Regions from separate parts of the Homo sapiens genome. Here all the other regions are reported to be linked to region 1. The links are microRNA targets in miRTarBase. Many come from high-throughput screens and were not tested one by one. Region 1 holds a microRNA gene; each other region holds the end of a gene's coding sequence.

Region 1 (4,334 bases):
TCACGGGGCCGGCCTCCTCTCCCGGGGTTCATCCTGGCGGGGGAGGGGGTGGGAGATGCGGGATCAGCAGACCAGGTGGCAAACACCACCTGCCAGCTGTGTGCCCATAGGTCAGCTCTCCATCCCAAAGGGGCCAGGAAGGGGCAGACGCCAGTGCCCCTTCACCAGAATCAGCCTCTTTTCCAGGCATCACTCCAGATTAGAACTTGTTCCTGAAAAGGAGATCCACCCCACGGGCCTTCCTGGGCACACGCAGAGCTCAGCTTCTCACTTTCTATAGGAATTCCCTGGGGTGGGACCACCATCTCCTTCCCAGTGTGGGCACCTCTCCAGGAAGTTTTCCTAAGGATGCACTCAGCACCGAGGTCCCAGGCACTGGATGAATTTACACCTTAGACAAAGCAAAGGCCCTGTGGTCACCATCCCTTCATCCATCTCACAGAGCCGTTGACACCAGTGTCATTCTCCATGCCAGCCCTTGCCCCACCCCTGCCAGAGGCTGGCATCGTGGCCATGAAGCCATGCTAAGAAAGAGCACAGGGTCAACAGTAGTAAACCCCACGTACCCCCAAGTAACTGAGGAAGCAGACCCACAGCCCATTCCCCACAGTGGTCTCTCCTTCAAGAAGGGGAGAGGAGCGGGAGCCGCCTGGTCCAGGTGGCAGGTTATGTGACTCATTACCCAGGCGTGGTGCTCACCTCTCTTCAGCTGGACGTTCGCTTTCCTTGGGCTGAGGATGCTGCGAATGTCCTTCCTGAAGCTGGCTTCGGGTCCAGATGACCCCCATGGCAGTCGGGGTGTAAAAAGCCGGCAGTCACACGGCCCAAGGAGTGTCTCCACAAACACAGAACAAGAGTCCCATTCTCAGGCAGCCATCCTAGGTGTGAGCAGAAAGCCAGCAGTCAGAGACGGGGCACAGACATCGAGGCAGAAGCAGGCGCCCTCTGACCTCCCACATGCACGCACCTGGTGCGGGGCTGACAGCTCCCACGGCTCATCCCCAGCGCTGCCTTCATGGGCAATCACAAATGACAAATAGAAGCAAACCATTCTTACAGATTCAGCCTGGGGACTGCGAGCTGGATCATGAACACCCAAGCATCAAAAAAAAAAAGCGCTGATGAGCACACCTCAGCCCCTTCCCCAAGGTCAATACCACCTCCAGGAAGCCCTCCTGGGGCTGGCCTACCAGGCTCGAAAACAGCATAGACAGAGCCAGTGCTCCGTGGTCCACCATCACTGCTGTCTGTGTTCCCCTTGAAATGATCCAACATCCAGGTCCCCCTTCTAAGGCTGATGCTGGGAACAGGAAGCCTTCTGTGTATGACTTGGTACCAAGAAGAGGCAGATCAATGTGTGATTTATCCTTAAAAAAGCAAACCACCATTAAACTTGGAGCACACAAAAAGGTCCCTCCTCTCCCACTGCTTCCAGGGAGTCCACAGGAAGAACCAGCATAGAGGGCGAAGGCAGAACCCAGGGGCAGCGTCACAGCCAACCTCACGTTCCCGGACATGGAAGCCAGGCCATACCTGAGAGGGGCTGACATCCGAGGCTTTGTCCTGGAGACAAGCAGGGTATGAGTGTCTTCTCCGACAGTTTGATACGCAAATGAGAGTCTCCCCCTGTATATTCGCCATTAATCAAGTGAACATACAAAGGGTATCCTCTCTTTAAGTACCAAAGGGTGGCTCAAAGAGCAGGTGAGGACCATGCCGGGTCTTTGCCGGAGTGGACATCTCCTCCTGCGAGGCCTGAGACCAAGGGGGAGGGGCCCGGTGACAAGCCTCATCTGGCTGACCCTGGAGCTGGGCCTGCACCTTGCACATTGTGGCCTGGCCCCGAAAGGTGGCACATCCAGGACTCCCTGCAGGCGAGACTGGCTTCTAAACAAGGGAACAGGTAGGCATGACTATCAGTGTGCTCAGCATGCATGGGTGAACCTGCTTCAAATACCCACAAGCTACATGGACAATGGAACCATCACCTTTCTCCAAAGGGGCACAGGGTGTGAGGGCTCAGCCCGGCAAGACATGGAGTTATCAGAGAAGAAGGCATCTGCAGGCATTCTCAGAGCTGGAGAGCGCTGAGACAATGTCTCTCCTCTGAGGCTGGTTGTCCTAGAGATGACCAGATCCAAGAATGTGTCACCTGTACCTACCTCGAAACAAACAAAAAGAGGGCCCCAGCGTCAGACTCTAGCGACAAAGGAGTCCTGAAGACCAGACACACCTGCCCAAGGCACACTCAGGTGCAATCACTGGACAATGTGCTCCGAGGACTGGCCATTGGAGTCCAGCGACAGTCCCAGAGGGCACAGGCAGGCTCAGGGAGCTCCACCAGTAACTTGCCTTAGAACAACCTGACATCCATGTGCTTCCCTCAAGGCTGACACTCTCTCAAGGATGGAGACCACCAGGGAGTGGCAGGTCAGGGGAGTAGCAGGTGAGAAGCAGCATCAGCTCTGCGCTCCACCATCCACCACCCATTCGTGTGTCCGGAGAGGTGCGAGGTTAGTGCTGGACGCAGGAAGCCCTCTGGGTATGACTTGGTATGGAGAAGAGGCAGATCCATGTGATTTATCCTTAAAAAAAGCAAACCACCATTAAACTCAGTGCACACAAAAAGGACCCTCCTCTCCCACTGCCTCCAGGGAGTCCACAGGAAGAACCAGCACAGAGAGCGAAGGCAGAACCCAAGGGCTAGGATCACAGCCAAGCTCACGTTCCCAGACAGGGAAGCCAAGCCGTACCTGAGAGGGGCTGACATCCGAGGCTTTGTCCTGGAGACAGCAGGGTCTGAGCGTCTTCCTCGACAGAGTTTGATACGCAAATAAGAGTCTCCCCCTGTATATTCGCCATTAATCAAGTGAACATACAAAGGGTATCCTCTCTTCAAGTACCAAAGAGTGGCTCAAAGAGCAGGTGAGGACTATGCCGGGTCTTCGCCGGAGTGGACATCTCCTCCTGCGAGGCCTGAGACCAAGGGGGAGGGGCCAGGTGACAAGCCTCATCTGGCTGGCCCTGGAGCTGGGGCCTGCCATACAGTTGACTTTACTTCCCAGCATCTCTTCACGACAGGATTGGTTACCAAAAGACAGGCAATCCTGTACCATTTGAAATAATGTAAATGTAAAATGGCTGAAATCCCTTTAGGGCCTGCAAAAACACCCTGGGAGAAGAACCTCTGCCTCTGCCCAAAGCCACTGCCTCCAGGAAGCCCTCCTGGTGAACACTGGCTAAGGGAGGTTAGAAGATGCAGTCACATGCATCATTAAAGAAAAAAGAGAAACAGAAATCCAACGCACTCCGTTTGCAAATCACAAAGCAGCACTATGACAAGTGTCCCTTCTCCTGAATTTGGCATTGTATTCAGAAAGCCATCTGAGCAGTTAGTTGTTACTCAGAAGTATTCATCTAGGGCAAGATTCGTCAAAGGAAAATGAGATTCTCATGGGCCAACTCTCTCTGAATAAACACATGCTAACACCAGGAATCCAAGGGTCTTTCCATTGGCAAGAATCCCTAAAGGACACCAATGGACTAAGAGAGCAGTGGGGCTTAGAGGTCCCAGCAGCAAGTCCTGTAGCCACACTGGGTGCTCTGGGGCCTCCTTCCTGTGGACTGGCCTTCCCTCAAGTGGACAGTGAGGTCCAAAAGTCACTCCAAGGATGGGCTAGGTATGGAGAGTGGGTAGACCAGATGACCCACATCTACATTAGACATTGACTTTGCTGACGGTCATTCTTTCATGTATCTGGGAGATGCACTGACCACGAGACCTCTTCTCAGAGGCTGGCATCATGCTGGGCAGACCTGCCGGAGTAGCAGCCCATGGATGCTTTGTGATAAGTAGGGCCCATCAAGGGAGGCCCTTTGTTCTTTTCTTTTTTTTTTAACCTATTGTGTTGAGACAGGGGTCTCTGTCAGCCAGGCTGAAGTGCAGTGGCACAATCTTGGCTCACTACAACCTCCCAACTCCCGGGCTCAAGTGATCCTCCAGCCTCAACCTCCTAAGTACTGGGACCACAGGCGCACACCATGACACCCAGCTAATTTTTGTATTTTTTGCAGAGATGGGGTTTCGCCAAGTTGCCCACGCTAGTTTCGAACTCCTGGGCTTAAGCCATCCACCGTCTCAGCCTCCCAAAGGGCTGGGGTTACAAGCGTGAGCCACCGTGCCCGGCCAAGGTAGGCCCTTTTTGCTAGGCAGAACAGGTGGTCTGAAGAGAAAACCCTATATCATCTCCAAAGCCAGCATCTCTTCCAGAAAGTTCTTGGAAGGAAGCATGAGATGAGGAGGGTCAGAGAACCAGGTCACAAACAGCAAGACA
Region 2 (4,228 bases), not on the chromosome of region 1:
CCCTGTGACCTGTGCCTGTATCCATGTGACCCAGTCTGTCTTCTCTCTGCAGTGCCGTATTCACCTGGACCAACCTGCTGGTGGTGGTGGTGGAGCTGGATGGGCTAGAGCAGGATGCCCTGGACCTGGTGGCCCTGGTGACCAACGTGGTGCTGGAGGAGCACTACCTGGTCGTGGGAGTGGTGGTCATCGTGGACCCAGGGGTGATCCCTATCAACTCTCGGGGTGAGAAGCAGCGCATGCACCTGCGGGACGGCTTCCTGGCTGACCAGCTGGACCCCATCTATGTCGCCTACAACATGTGAGCGCAGCACACCGGCCCAGGTGCCGGAGATGAATGAGCCCCAGCAGTCCAAGGTGTGATGTGGGAAGACACCGCAGAGCTCACTCACCGGGACTCGCCCTTCCTGTGCTCTTACAGATCCCTCTCAACAATCCCCGCATCTCCTTTTAGAAAGCACTTCCTGAATTATTTAAAGAAATATTTTGAATCTGCCAAGTACATTTACAAAAACACGGATGCTGGTATTTTAACAGATGGAGAGACAAGGAAAGGAAAGGAAAGGCCTGGCATGGGCATTGTGAGGAATCACAGGCACCGAGGTTGTTCTCTGCTGTACTGCAAGTTTGCACTTTCTTTAGGCTAAAAATATAGTTCCTGATTTTTAAAATTCAGTTATTTATTCCCACTTCAAATGACAAGTTCATATATAGAATTTACGGGAGAAACTTGAGACCATTTACGGGGAGAAACTTGATTCTGGGAAGATAGCAGAGTACAAACCAGCTGCCTCACTTCTGTTTCACAGGGAGGCTGATGGAAAAAGGAAGCAAGCTGGACCCATCCTCCCTGCTCACAGAGGGCACTGTGGTCACACACAGTGCCTCCTCTGCCAGTTCCTTTATTGAAAGAGGTGTGCTGGCTGGCCACGGTGGCTTACACCTGTAATCCCAGCACTTTGGGAGGCCGAGGCGAGCAGATCACGAGGTCAGGAGACCGAGACCATCCTGGCTAACATGGTGAAACCCTGTCTCTACTAAAAATACAAAAAATTAGCCGGGTGTGGTGGTGGGCGCCTGTAGTCCCAGCTACTTGGGAGGCTGAGGCAGGAGAATGGTATGAACCAGGGAGGCGGAGCTTGCAGTGAGCCGAGATCACGCTACTGCACTCCAGCCTGGGTGACAGCACGAGATGCCGTCTTAAAAAAACAAAAAAGAGGTGTGCTGCTTGTCAGCATGTATTGTCACGGACACTCAATAAGTGCCATTTTGGACTGTCAAATTTAGATGCTTTGTTTCAGAAAGATAAGCCAGCATTTAGTTTTAAATCACTTTCCTGGTTTGTAACTTGATGCTGTTTAGTTAAATTGCTAGTTTTCCTAACACTACAATATTAATTCTTCTCGTGGAAGTGTACTGATTTATTATTTTTATTCCAAGTCAGCAGATTTGGAAGCATTGTGGTAAAGTCTAAGGTTTTCATATCCATAGTGCTGTTTGGTGAGTACCGGCAGTACAGTTGAGGGGAGCAGGGAACAGCATTGCCCCGTATTGAAGGTGGAGATGGTTACATTCTTCACTGCTTTTTGCATTTTGAGTTGTGTGCCTATAAAATTTGGCCAAACCATTTTATTATTTTGTTCAAACTTGACTAAGCTGAGTGATCTAAAATTATACAGAACCTAAATCAAAGAAGAGAATGTAAAGTCCTTTAGTTACTTCTAAGAATTTGAAGTCAAGCACGAATCTAAGACATAGATTATTTTTATATAGCTAATGAAGAGTATGTTACGAAATTGTTGGGTTTTTGGGGTATTGAGGGTGGCAAATTTTGTGAATCATGCATGCTTCACAGAAACAACCAGGTTTTTCCAGAATTAGTCTGGATCAGTGCCTAACAAAGCTGTTATTAATTCTCCACACATGAGTCTGGCTAACTGGGCCAGCTCTCATGTTTTACTCCTGTCTGGCTACAAATAGCACTGTGCATAGTAGCCCTGTTTCCCCATGGTGTTGGACTGTGGTAAAGTATGTTGTGACATACTGGAATTCTAATAATCCTGTTGTAAGTATGTACAGAATCTATGTAACTTATTGTTGACATACAGAGGTTTGGGAAGTAGTCTAATGGACATTCCTTACAATAGAATGGCTGGGAAGGGAAAGAAAAAAAAAAAAAAACTACCTAACTCCAATCTTAATGTTGTAGTTTTATAGCAAACAAAAATTGTCAGCTTTTTGTATTGAAAGGTCAGTGGTGGTAAGACAAGGTGTCTTGTAAATTAAGATTTTAAGAAGTGCATTAAAATGTTTTAGAATTACTCTGGGAATTCTGTATATCACACTAAAATTTTTATATCATTATGTTAATAAAAGTTATTGACTTTGTAATTCTGCATTTTGAAATGTGTGAAAAGGGTCTTTAAATTACCCCGAATAGGTTGTATCTTATTTTGCTTTTTTTCTGACTATAAAAGCAGTTATGCTTATAGCATAAAATCTAGAAAGCACATTAAAGTATAAAGAAAATTAAAATTTCTTATAATTCTACCTCTGAGTAAACAGCAGCATTCGTATGTAACATAAACCCTCTCAGGGATTTATTTTTTCTTTTTAAAAATTTTTTACAAAATTAGGATCAAGTGCTTTTTTAAATAATTTGCTTTTGTACTTAATAAATTATAGACTTTAAAATCTATTACATATATTCTTCTACATGTTTCAGTGGCTGTATTTTACAAGTGTGCCATGAGTAAATGTAGTATTTGCTGTATTGCCGTACATCAGCGTTGTTTCAACAGGACTGCAGTGAGCCCAGATGCACGTTTACACTGCCATGATTACAATTACTGCCTTGGGCTCAGTTCTTATAGGTAGAGTGAGTGGGTCAGAGTTCATGCCAGGTGTGAAGCTTTGGGTACCTGCTGCCCTCCAGAAGGGCAGGATGACAGCATGGAAAAGGCCTCTTTGCAGATGCCAAGTAATGTTGGCAATGGACATGTGCTCAAGATTAAAATAACTCTTTAACAATTTGATAGGCAAATAAGTGTTGTGTCTGGTCATGTTGAATATGTCCTCGTGTTCATGGCCATTTTTAGTTCTTATCTGATGTATTTTGTTCAGATTTGGCAGTCCTTATGGTCAAGTTTTTTCTTACTGACATGTAGGAGTCTCTTTCTATTAAGAATTATAACCTCCATATACTTCTTACTTTTTCTTGTGGGTTATTTGTATTTTGGTTCTATCTGTTTTGGTGCAGATGGTTTTTTAGATGTTATATTTATGCAAACTGGTTATTGTGTTTGATTTCAGATTATGAATATAGCTGATTTATTTCAAAGTGGTTCTACTGGAATGATCAGCATAAACCAATGGGGAGTACATGGCAGAGAAATAACTAACCTCCAGTATTTGCCTGGTTCCTGCCACAGTGCTGGCCTTCATGTTGGCAGTTCCAGAAGTGGGGTTGAGGGAGAGAGAGAATACTTGAAGAAATAATGGCTGAAGACTTCCTAAATTTGATGAAAGACCTGAATATAAGCATCCAAGTAGCTCAACAAATTCCAAGTAAGATGAACTCAAAGAGACCACACAGATACCAACATTTCAGAAGCCAAAGCCAGAGAATTTTGAAAGCAACAAGGGAGAAGCAACTTGCTACATACAAAGGATCCTCAGTAACAGGTCCCCAAGCCCTGGGCCACAGACTGTTAACAGTCTGTTAGGTACCAGACCACACAGCAAGAGGTGAGTGGTGGGTGAGTGAGCATTACCACCTGAGCTCTGCCTCCTGTCAGATCAGTGGTGACATTAGATTTTCATAGGCATGCAAGCCTTCTTATGAACTAACTGCACGTGCCAGGGATCGAGGTTGCACACTCCTTATAAGAATCTAATGCCTGATGATCTGAGGTGGGACAGTTCCATTCCAAAACCATCGTCCTGTGCCCCCTGGTCTGTGGAATAATTGTCTTCCACAAAACCAGTCGCTGGTGCCAAAAAGGTTGGGGACTGCTGCTCAATAAGATTATCAGCAGATTGCTCATCAGAAACTAGAGGCCAGAAGGTAGTGGGCCAATATATTGAAATTTAAAGTAGTTTTTTCTAATTCTGTGAAGAAAGTCAATGGTAGCTTGATGGGGATAGCATTGAATTTATAAATTATTTTGGGCAGTATGGCCATTTTCACGATATTGGTTCTTCCTATCCATGAACATGGGATGTTTTT
Region 3 (4,228 bases), not on the chromosome of region 1:
TGTCCACATCCACAGAGGGGCTCAAGATCCCCATGACTCCTACATCCTCTTTTGTGTCTCCGCCACCACCCACTGCCTCACCTCATTCCAACCGGACCACACCGCCTGAAGCGGCCCAGAATGGCCAGTCCCCCATGGCAGCCCTGATCTTAGTAGCAGACAATGCAGGGGGCAGTCATGCCTCAAAAGATGCCAACCAGGTTCACTCCACTACCAGGAGGAATAGCAACAGTCCGCCCTCTCCGTCCTCTATGAACCAAAGAAGGCTGGGCCCCAGAGAGGTGGGGGGCCAGGGAGCAGGCAACACAGGAGGACTGGAGCCAGTGCACCCTGCCAGCCTCCCGGACTCCTCTCTGGCAACCAGTGCCCCGCTGTGCTGCACCCTCTGCCACGAGCGGCTGGAGGACACCCATTTTGTGCAGTGCCCGTCCGTCCCTTCGCACAAGTTCTGCTTCCCTTGCTCCAGACAAAGCATCAAACAGCAGGGAGCTAGTGGAGAGGTCTATTGTCCCAGTGGGGAAAAATGCCCTCTTGTGGGCTCCAATGTCCCCTGGGCCTTTATGCAAGGGGAAATTGCAACCATCCTTGCTGGAGATGTGAAAGTGAAAAAAGAGAGAGACTCGTGACTTTTCCGGTTTCAGAAAAACCCAATGATTACCCTTAATTAAAACTGCTTGAATTGTATATATATCTCCATATATATATATATCCAAGACAAGGGAAATGTAGACTTCATAAACATGGCTGTATAATTTTGATTTTTTTTGAATACATTGTGTTTCTATATTTTTTTTGACGACAAAAGGTATGTACTTATAAAGACATTTTTTTCTTTTGTTAACGTTATTAGCATATCTTTGTGCTTTATTATCCTGGTGACAGTTACCGTTCTATGTAGGCTGTGACTTGCGCTGCTTTTTTAGAGCACTTGGCAAATCAGAAATGCTTCTAGCTGTATTTGTATGCACTTATTTTAAAAAGAAAAAAAAAGCCAAATACATTTTCTGACATTGTAAGATTGCCTTACTGTCTGTCATTCCTTATTGCTGGCCCCTTTCTCAGGCCGGAGGCCAAGTGGTGGAGAAGGAAAGGAAATGATCGAACGGGCATGTTGTCAAGTGGGCATGCCACTGGGAAATACCACCAGTTTACCCTGAAACATTGTCCTCAGAGGAGTAGGAAAGTGGATTTTGAATCTCTATTTTGCTCAAAAGTTCAGTTCCTGAGATACTGATGACTGAGAGTGCTGCTGGGAAATTTTCAGGATTGTGTGGTCTTTTGGGGTTTTTTGTTTTTTTTTTTTTAAGACAAAGTTGACCGCTGTTCACTGTCCACGTGATCAGTTGTAAGATTACAATGCTGCATGCTAGTTGGTTACATAAGATACAATTCCAGTGATGGAAGGCGGTTATAATGGATGGTGGTGTGTACAAGATGGCACTGCCATCTTTGAGCAGAGCCCAGCTCTGCAGCGCCACTTCATCTTTTTAAACACCCTAGAGGTCTGTTTGTTGTTGCTGTTGTCCTTTATTTTGAAAGAGTTGCAAGAGAAGTTACAGTCCAGGTGAACTTGGAGATTGTGGGATTGGTTTTGTTTCTGTTTTGTTTTGTTTATCATTTACCTGTAGTGCTATTGCTGTTGATACTATCACCTATACCCTGTTTCTAGTGAGTGCTGAATACAGTATGGTACAATGACAGTAACAGCCGCGTGGTGCTGCCAGGACTGCCCTTGGGCATATCAGTGACAGCCCAAATGTGGGTGGAGGAAACCTGTAATTTCCTTCTTAACATGTGTTTGAAATACCAAGTGAATAATACTGTTCTGGAAAAAAATGATAAACTAGTGGAAATTAAAGAAATTAAGGGTTTTATATAATAGACAGGCCCCACCTCTCAAAATATTTTTAGAAGTCTTTTTGTAAACTAATTTCTTTTGATCACTATTTTGCATCAGTAAAATGATTTTTTTAAAACCAATAAATCATCAATTATTAGAAATAGTTGTCTCACAGTGATACTGGTTTTTCTTTTGTGCTGTTATGATTTAACATTGACAGGAACACTATTTTAAATCCTTACGTTCAGGTGTTTGTAACTTGGCCTTATAATTAGGCTGAATTATGGCTTCAAGGTCTACAATTTATGTGTATGGTTCACAGCCTAGCTTCTATTTACATTTGAAAATACAGATTTTTACCAACTTTGGATTCTTTTTTAGTTATATGTTTGTCTTTCCTTTTTAAATTGTTCAAAACTATTTTTTAATGGTCAAGTTACTAACACTTGAAAATCAGATACTGCACCAAATACAGTGTTTTTCCGTAGTGTTTTTAATGAGTGCACCTATTACTACTGTGCGAGAATTCATGTTTTACCAGTCATTGTTATATTACAAACAGACTTGCATGATTAACCAGTTGTTACACTTACTTTTTCAAGTTGGAGTATATATGACTCAGTGCAGACTGGTCTCTCTTATGTGAATGCACACATGCAGAAATGCAGAGTCAATTTTACATGCCCATAAAGACATTTGTAAAGAATTCAGCTCTTATGGTCTGTTGTATAAATGTGTATCTAGGCACTTTGGAATTTGACCTCACAGATGTTACAACTTGATCAGTCGTTTGACCTAATTTGTGGTAGCTATCTGTATGTTTTGCAATCTTAATACAGACATGCTTTCCAAAAAGATTAATACAGAACCATCCTGCCGTTTTGGATAAGTCTATCCAGCTGTGGAAAGGGCAACCTGTGGTTTCTCTGTACTGGTGTTTAATGGGGGAAGAATATGAACAGCTTTAAAGAGCTGTGTATTGTGGTTACTACTATTAAAAAATAAGATCTGCACGAGTCTGACTGGCCTTTGGGTGGCCTTTGTGGACGGCTCGTAGCTGGAAAGTGTTGATCTGGGTTTTCTGGCATTCTTTTAAGTTAAAAAGTTAACATCGGGACATGGGTTTGATCTTTTGTTGTACCTGATGACAGTGCAGAGATTCTCCACAGCTGGATAAAAATGTCACAAAGCTACTTACTGTACATGGGCAGTATCAGATTTCAAATCCTAATATTTCAGCTGTGCTTTTAATACTCAAAATATTAGGGGATGGGGTGTTGAAGCTTTCCCTTTTTTGCTTTTAACAATTTATAGAATTTAACAGATGTACTGTCTTTCATGTGGCCTCACATTTAAAGTTATGAGAACATACACATGGTTTACAACTTTTACTATATACCTTTCCTTGGCCACCAAGTATTTTAAAAGTGTGCCACCTTTTAACCTTTACTTTTTTTAAGTTGAAGGTGATACTTTTTCTATATATGATGAAACTCATGTCAACTGAAGTGAGTGTAATCTCAGATACCAACATTATTATATTTTAAAATCACGCTATGGAAATATCACCTGAATTCTGTCATTTGTCAGATTTACAGTACCTTTTTTTCTTTAACTTTTAGCATTAAATAAAAATAAAATTGGGAGCACTGAACATTTTCTGAGGCCTTTTTTAATTTTCTAAAGCAAGCTTAGAATGGCTATTGTTTTAATCACTAATGGCAATGTGACTAAAGGATGTGTGGGTTTGGGGTTGGGGTTTGCCTGAACTTCAGGAGATAAAAGACATGGAACAAAAAGGCAACTGATGGTATAAAATAGAAGTGCCAGGGACTGCGGAAAGGGCAACTGGATAGGGGACACAGATAAAAGAGCTGAACAAAGTACGGCTAGAAAGCATTTGTTTATTTTTCAACTAGCAGCAGAACCAGCCATTCTGCAATGGTAGATTGGAAAGAGAAGATAGTGACGACACTGGAAAGACTCTCAAGACCTGGAGCTGCTCTTTGAAAAGCTTTGGAATAAAACAGCTACGTTGGGCCATAGGAAATGCGCTAAAGACAAAAGGGATTTAAAAAAAAAAAAAGCCTTATACTTTGGAAAGCTTAGGAATGAAAAAAGCCAAAGCCATGTATGAGCTTTATTGATATCCTGAAACTTAAATTTATAAATAGAGATAAAAGGTAGAAAGCACTGAGACACATTTTACTGGCTACTCTCATATAATAAGAAATTTCCTAGATGTTGCAGCTTTTACTCTTTTTATTGATTAATGGCTTGGCAGACTTCTCTATGAAAGGAAGTTGTGAAACTCATAAAGAGTTGGAGGCTAGGATATACATAGAGTTACTATATGTTTTAAATTAAACAGCAACAGTGAATGTGTAC
Region 4 (4,228 bases), not on the chromosome of region 1:
TGTACGCTGTGGGCTCTCAGTCCCACGTCTCCTTCCTGGATCCGCGCCAGCGCCAGCAGAACATCCGGCCCCTGTGCTCTCGAGAGGGTGGCACAGGCGTGCGGTCGCTGAGCTTCTACCAGCACATCATCACTGTGGGCACCGGCCATGGTTCCCTGCTCTTCTATGACATCCGCGCCCAGAAGTTCCTGGAGGAGAGGGCCTCTTCCAGCCTGGACTCCATGCCGGGGCCCGCAGGGAGGAAGCTCAAGCTTGCCTGCGGCAGAGGCTGGCTCAACCAAGATGACGTCTGGGTGAACTACTTTGGTGGCATGGGAGAGTTCCCCAATGCGCTCTACACCCACTGCTACAACTGGCCGGAGATGAAGCTCTTTGTGGCTGGGGGGCCTCTCCCTTCAGGCCTCCATGGGAACTACGCAGGCCTCTGGAGTTAAGGATGGACGCCTTGTTCTCAAAGTGCACAGGTTTACCTTTCAGTTCCGCCTGACTTTCCTTCTTCATGCTGCATTTGTGCTTTTAACTTTGTGTGGCTTTTGTCTTCCAGGTGGAACCAGTCCAACTTACGTGTGCTTAATGTATTAGGCAGAGAAAGAAAGAGAGAGAGCGGGAGCGAGAGAGCACAAGTGGTCCTTTCGGCAGTCAAAACTTTGGCTTTAAAACTCTCATTCACGTTTCCCAACAGCAGTATATTTTTGCCTTCTCATTCAAAGAGTTTTGGCTAAACCTTAATTGTGTTCTGTCTTTCAGTGATTCACATACCCTCCTTCTTTAGGTTGATGTAGTCATAGTCTTCACTACTATTCAGTACGTTAGTTTTATCAATATTGCAATAGTGTTCAGATCTTTTACACATGTTAGATGTGTGGTGTTTTGGGGAAATGTGAGCTACAAAGCATCTTTGGGGTTGTTTTGAGGAACTACCCATCATTTATAGCCTTACTCTAATTACAAAATGCAGTTCAGGTTCTAGATTGCCACCATTCTAGAGTGTGGCACACACCATTCTAGGGCGTGATTCATTTGGATGTTGGAAACTCAATGTCTGTTGTTTGTATAGTGTTGATGTGTAAAATGCTTTAAAAATATGTTCTGTTAGTTAGAAATCTTACAATGTTGTTCATACTATTAATCAACATTTTTGGTTATTCAGTAAAACTTTACTATCCTCAGGCCCTCCGTGTTCTTATTTAAAGCCGCTGTATTATGGCCTGCTTTTCTATGCTACAGATTTTCAGAACTACTCAATTCTGGTCTATATATGTGGTAGTGCAATCAGGGAGGTATTTTTGGGGGTATATGGGGTACACATCTCTTTAAATTCAGGTAGCTATTTACAGTGAAAAGCCAGTTGTGGCAGTTGTGCTCAGAGTAGGTGTTGATTTTTTATTACTGTATACATGGATAATTCTGGATCCAGTATGTGATGTGTTGCAGAAAAATAAATAAAATGTGTTCATCATCTTAGCAATTAAGTGGCAGACTTAAGTTCTTAATACTTAAATATATGCTTTCTTTTTTCATTTGTCTTTCTGAGAACGTATTTATCAAAGTCAAAACTTTCCAGGACAGAAGCTGAATCTGAAGCATTAGCTATGCAGACATTACTTTGTACATCTCTTTTTGAAAATGAAACTTATAAGTTAAAAGATTAAACAACATCTTGAATACGTTATGAAAATATACTTGGTGTAAGTTAGGATGGCTAAGTGTTTTTTAAAGTTGACTGAACAAACCATTTTTCATTTATACAAATATACATGTACTTATAACTACTTACATATATAATATATTTGTATATCTGTTTGTATATGTTACTTCCCATGTGAGAAGAAAGCATAGATATATATCATTTTATATGTGCAGCTATTTCTTATATATTGAACTACACATATTAAGACTTACCACTTGGTCTTTATTTGTGTTTTGTTTTATGCCAATTTAAAATAATTTTAATACAAGCACATGATCAAAAAACCATACAGTATAAAAAGTATACAGTTAAAAGTAAATCTCAAACCCCGGGGTCTCTAGTTTCCAGCCCATAGATTAGCACTAGTATATTTTTTGCATATACATATTTAGATTTAGTCTATATATATACAAGAACACATGTATGTGTGTATGGAATTTTTATACAAATAATAACATACTGTATGTATCTGTGCCTTTTTAATCACAAAATCTTAGTGATTTTTTCTTATACTTATCTACTTAATTTTATTGCATGCTGTTCTATTGTGTGATTGGAATACACTTGACTTATTCATTACACCTTTGATGATCATTTATGTTGGTTCTGGTTTTCTGTTACTGTAAACTATTCTGCAGTGATTACTTAAGTGTATACATCTTTGTGTACAAGCATAAATATATCTGCAGGATAATTCCGAGAAATGAAATTACTGGTTCAATGAGTAAGTTCATTTTATATTAATAGCCATTGCTAAATCATCTTCCAAGGAGTTCTCACCACCTTAACCTCCTACAAGTAATGGATGCACACCTGCTTTACCACACCCATGCCAACAGTGTGTCACCAAACTGTGCTCTTTGCCAATCTTACATCTACTTGATCTTGATCCTTTCTTTCTAAGCCACTGTGGCTGAGTTAATTCAATTTGTTGTCAGAGTACCAAGTGGGTTCTGAAACAAAGAACAAGAAAATGAAGGCAAGCAGTAAAAATGCTGCCACGCTAAAGGAAGAGAGTACCCACCATTCAGGCTCATGTACCTGGAAATGGATTACACACAGCTACTTTCCTTATATACTTAGCTGGACCTAGTAGGTTTCCCTGGTCTGTTGCACCCAGTTTAAGTTATACCCAACGTATGAGATGTCACTGAAGAAAATCCAAGAAGGAGACCACGAAAATCTGAACTAGGATAGTGGGGTAAGTGTGGAGAGGGAGAAAGTTATTCAAAACAATGAGGGGAAATAAAAGGAACAAACAGTATTTCATGTGAAAGATGAGGAAAACCAAAAAAATTAGGTGGACTCTCAGGCTCTGACTTGAATGTGAATGAATATTGACAGCAAATAAAAATAAAGAAAATAGGCATAGATAGTATGGGGGAGGATGATCAGTTTAACTTGGGACTTACTGAATTTGAGGTGCCTCTGTGACATCAGGAGAACATACCCAGTGAAGAATTGGCTGTGTACCCCAGGATGCAATTTCTCACTTCTGGGAAGGTGAGTGCTATGAAACACTGGAAATCTTGTCCTTTCAGGGGAAAGTAGAAGAGAAAAGCATATGAAGGATCTTTAAAACAATGAAAAGAGAGAAAGCCTGCCTCAGTGGCTCACACCTGTAATCCTAGCACTTTGGGAGGCTAAGGTAGGCAGATTGCTCGAGCCCGGGAGTTCCAGAGCAAGATGGGGAAAATGGTGAAACCTCATCTCTACATAAAATACAAAATTTGGCCGGGTGTAGTGGTACGCGCCTGTAGTTTCAGCTCCTCGGGAGGCTGAAGTGGGAGGATCACTTGAGCCCAGGAGGTTAAAGTTGCAGTGAGTAGAGATCATGCCACTGCACCCCAGCCTGGGTGACAGAGTGAGACCCTGTCTCAATAAATAAATAAACAAACAAATAAGTAAATAAAAGGAAATTTAAAAAAAAAGCTGGGATGGGGAAGAAAATGGTAGAGAATGATAGAGGCTTATTCTACACAAATTTTGTGACCTTAGCGTGAGACAACAATATATCTTTTAATACTAAAATTATAACGATTTTGAGTCTCCACCTAAAAGCCGTAAAGGACAGCTTTTCTCCCAGATAATCTTCCTAAATATTTACCTACGACTCCTTAAGACTGTCCACATTGGTCCACTAATTAGGCTTTTGAATTGCTCAACTGCTGGTTTTATCTTGGAGAATGAAAAGTCAGACCTAGCTCACAAAGCAGGGCTTCAGAGTTAATTATTTCTGGACCACTTATTCTCCTGTTCTGAGACATATCCAGTATTCCCAACACCCAGCTGGCACCAGCATCCTTGACAGTCTCACAGCAGTGGAATATCACCTCATCAGCAGCTGCTGCGAGCCCCTGTTTAAGTTCTCACTTCAATACCACAAGTGTAGGTCTCTGCCAACTTTCCCAGTCTTGCAAAAAGCAAAGGAGGTGTCCAGAGGAGGATACTGCTTTCCACAGGATTACAATAAAAGAGCACAAATGCAAATTATTAGAAGTGAGAGAGAAGAAATAATTACAAGCACAGATTTATTAG

What was found. The annotated mature microRNA hsa-miR-1185-2-3p reads AUAUACAGGGGGAGACUCUCAU and lies in region 1 at 1,613-1,634, opposite strand. An mRNA with a match to its seed (bases 2 to 7 or 8) in the 3' UTR can be bound and repressed. Matches are read on the target gene's strand: a 7mer-m8 pairs with bases 2 to 8, a 7mer-A1 pairs with bases 2 to 7 and ends in A, and an 8mer does both.
Region 2: the mRNA of DIP2A is a reported target of hsa-miR-1185-2-3p. Seed matches in the 3' UTR shown: 7mer-m8 at 2,333-2,339.
Region 3: miRTarBase lists IRF2BP2 as a target of hsa-miR-1185-2-3p. Seed matches in the 3' UTR shown: 8mer at 745-752 and 7mer-A1 at 2,566-2,572.
Region 4: miRTarBase lists DCAF12L2 as a target of hsa-miR-1185-2-3p. Seed matches in the 3' UTR shown: 7mer-m8 at 1,390-1,396.

The regions. Positions count from the first base shown.
Region 1 is chr14:101,041,550-101,045,883 of GRCh38, reverse strand. MIR1185-2 (microRNA 1185-2) reads right to left here and starts at 1,686; the gene lies at 1,601-1,686. MIR1185-1 (microRNA 1185-1) reads right to left here and starts at 2,907; the gene lies at 2,822-2,907. It overlaps MIR381HG (MIR381 host gene), which reads right to left and starts at 727. Exons shown (of 3, transcript NR_104192.1): 1 at 700-727. RefSeq lists an enhancer at 1-119.
Region 2 is chr21:46,567,318-46,571,545 of GRCh38, forward strand. DIP2A (disco interacting protein 2 homolog A) reads left to right here. Exons shown (of 38, transcript NM_015151.4): 38 at 53-2,698. The coding sequence ends at 305. Among named protein-coding and RNA genes, the nearest start is that of S100B, 36 kb to the right of the region's middle.
Region 3 is chr1:234,603,535-234,607,762 of GRCh38, reverse strand. It overlaps IRF2BP2 (interferon regulatory factor 2 binding protein 2), which reads left to right. Exons shown (of 2, transcript NM_182972.3): 2 at 1-3,494. The coding sequence ends at 626. Among named protein-coding and RNA genes, the nearest start is that of IRF2BP2, 4.5 kb to the left of the region's middle.
Region 4 is chrX:126,160,739-126,164,966 of GRCh38, reverse strand. It overlaps DCAF12L2 (DDB1 and CUL4 associated factor 12 like 2), which reads left to right. Exons shown (of 1, transcript NM_001013628.3): 1 at 1-1,468. The coding sequence ends at 434. Among named protein-coding and RNA genes, the nearest start is that of DCAF12L2, 3.4 kb to the left of the region's middle.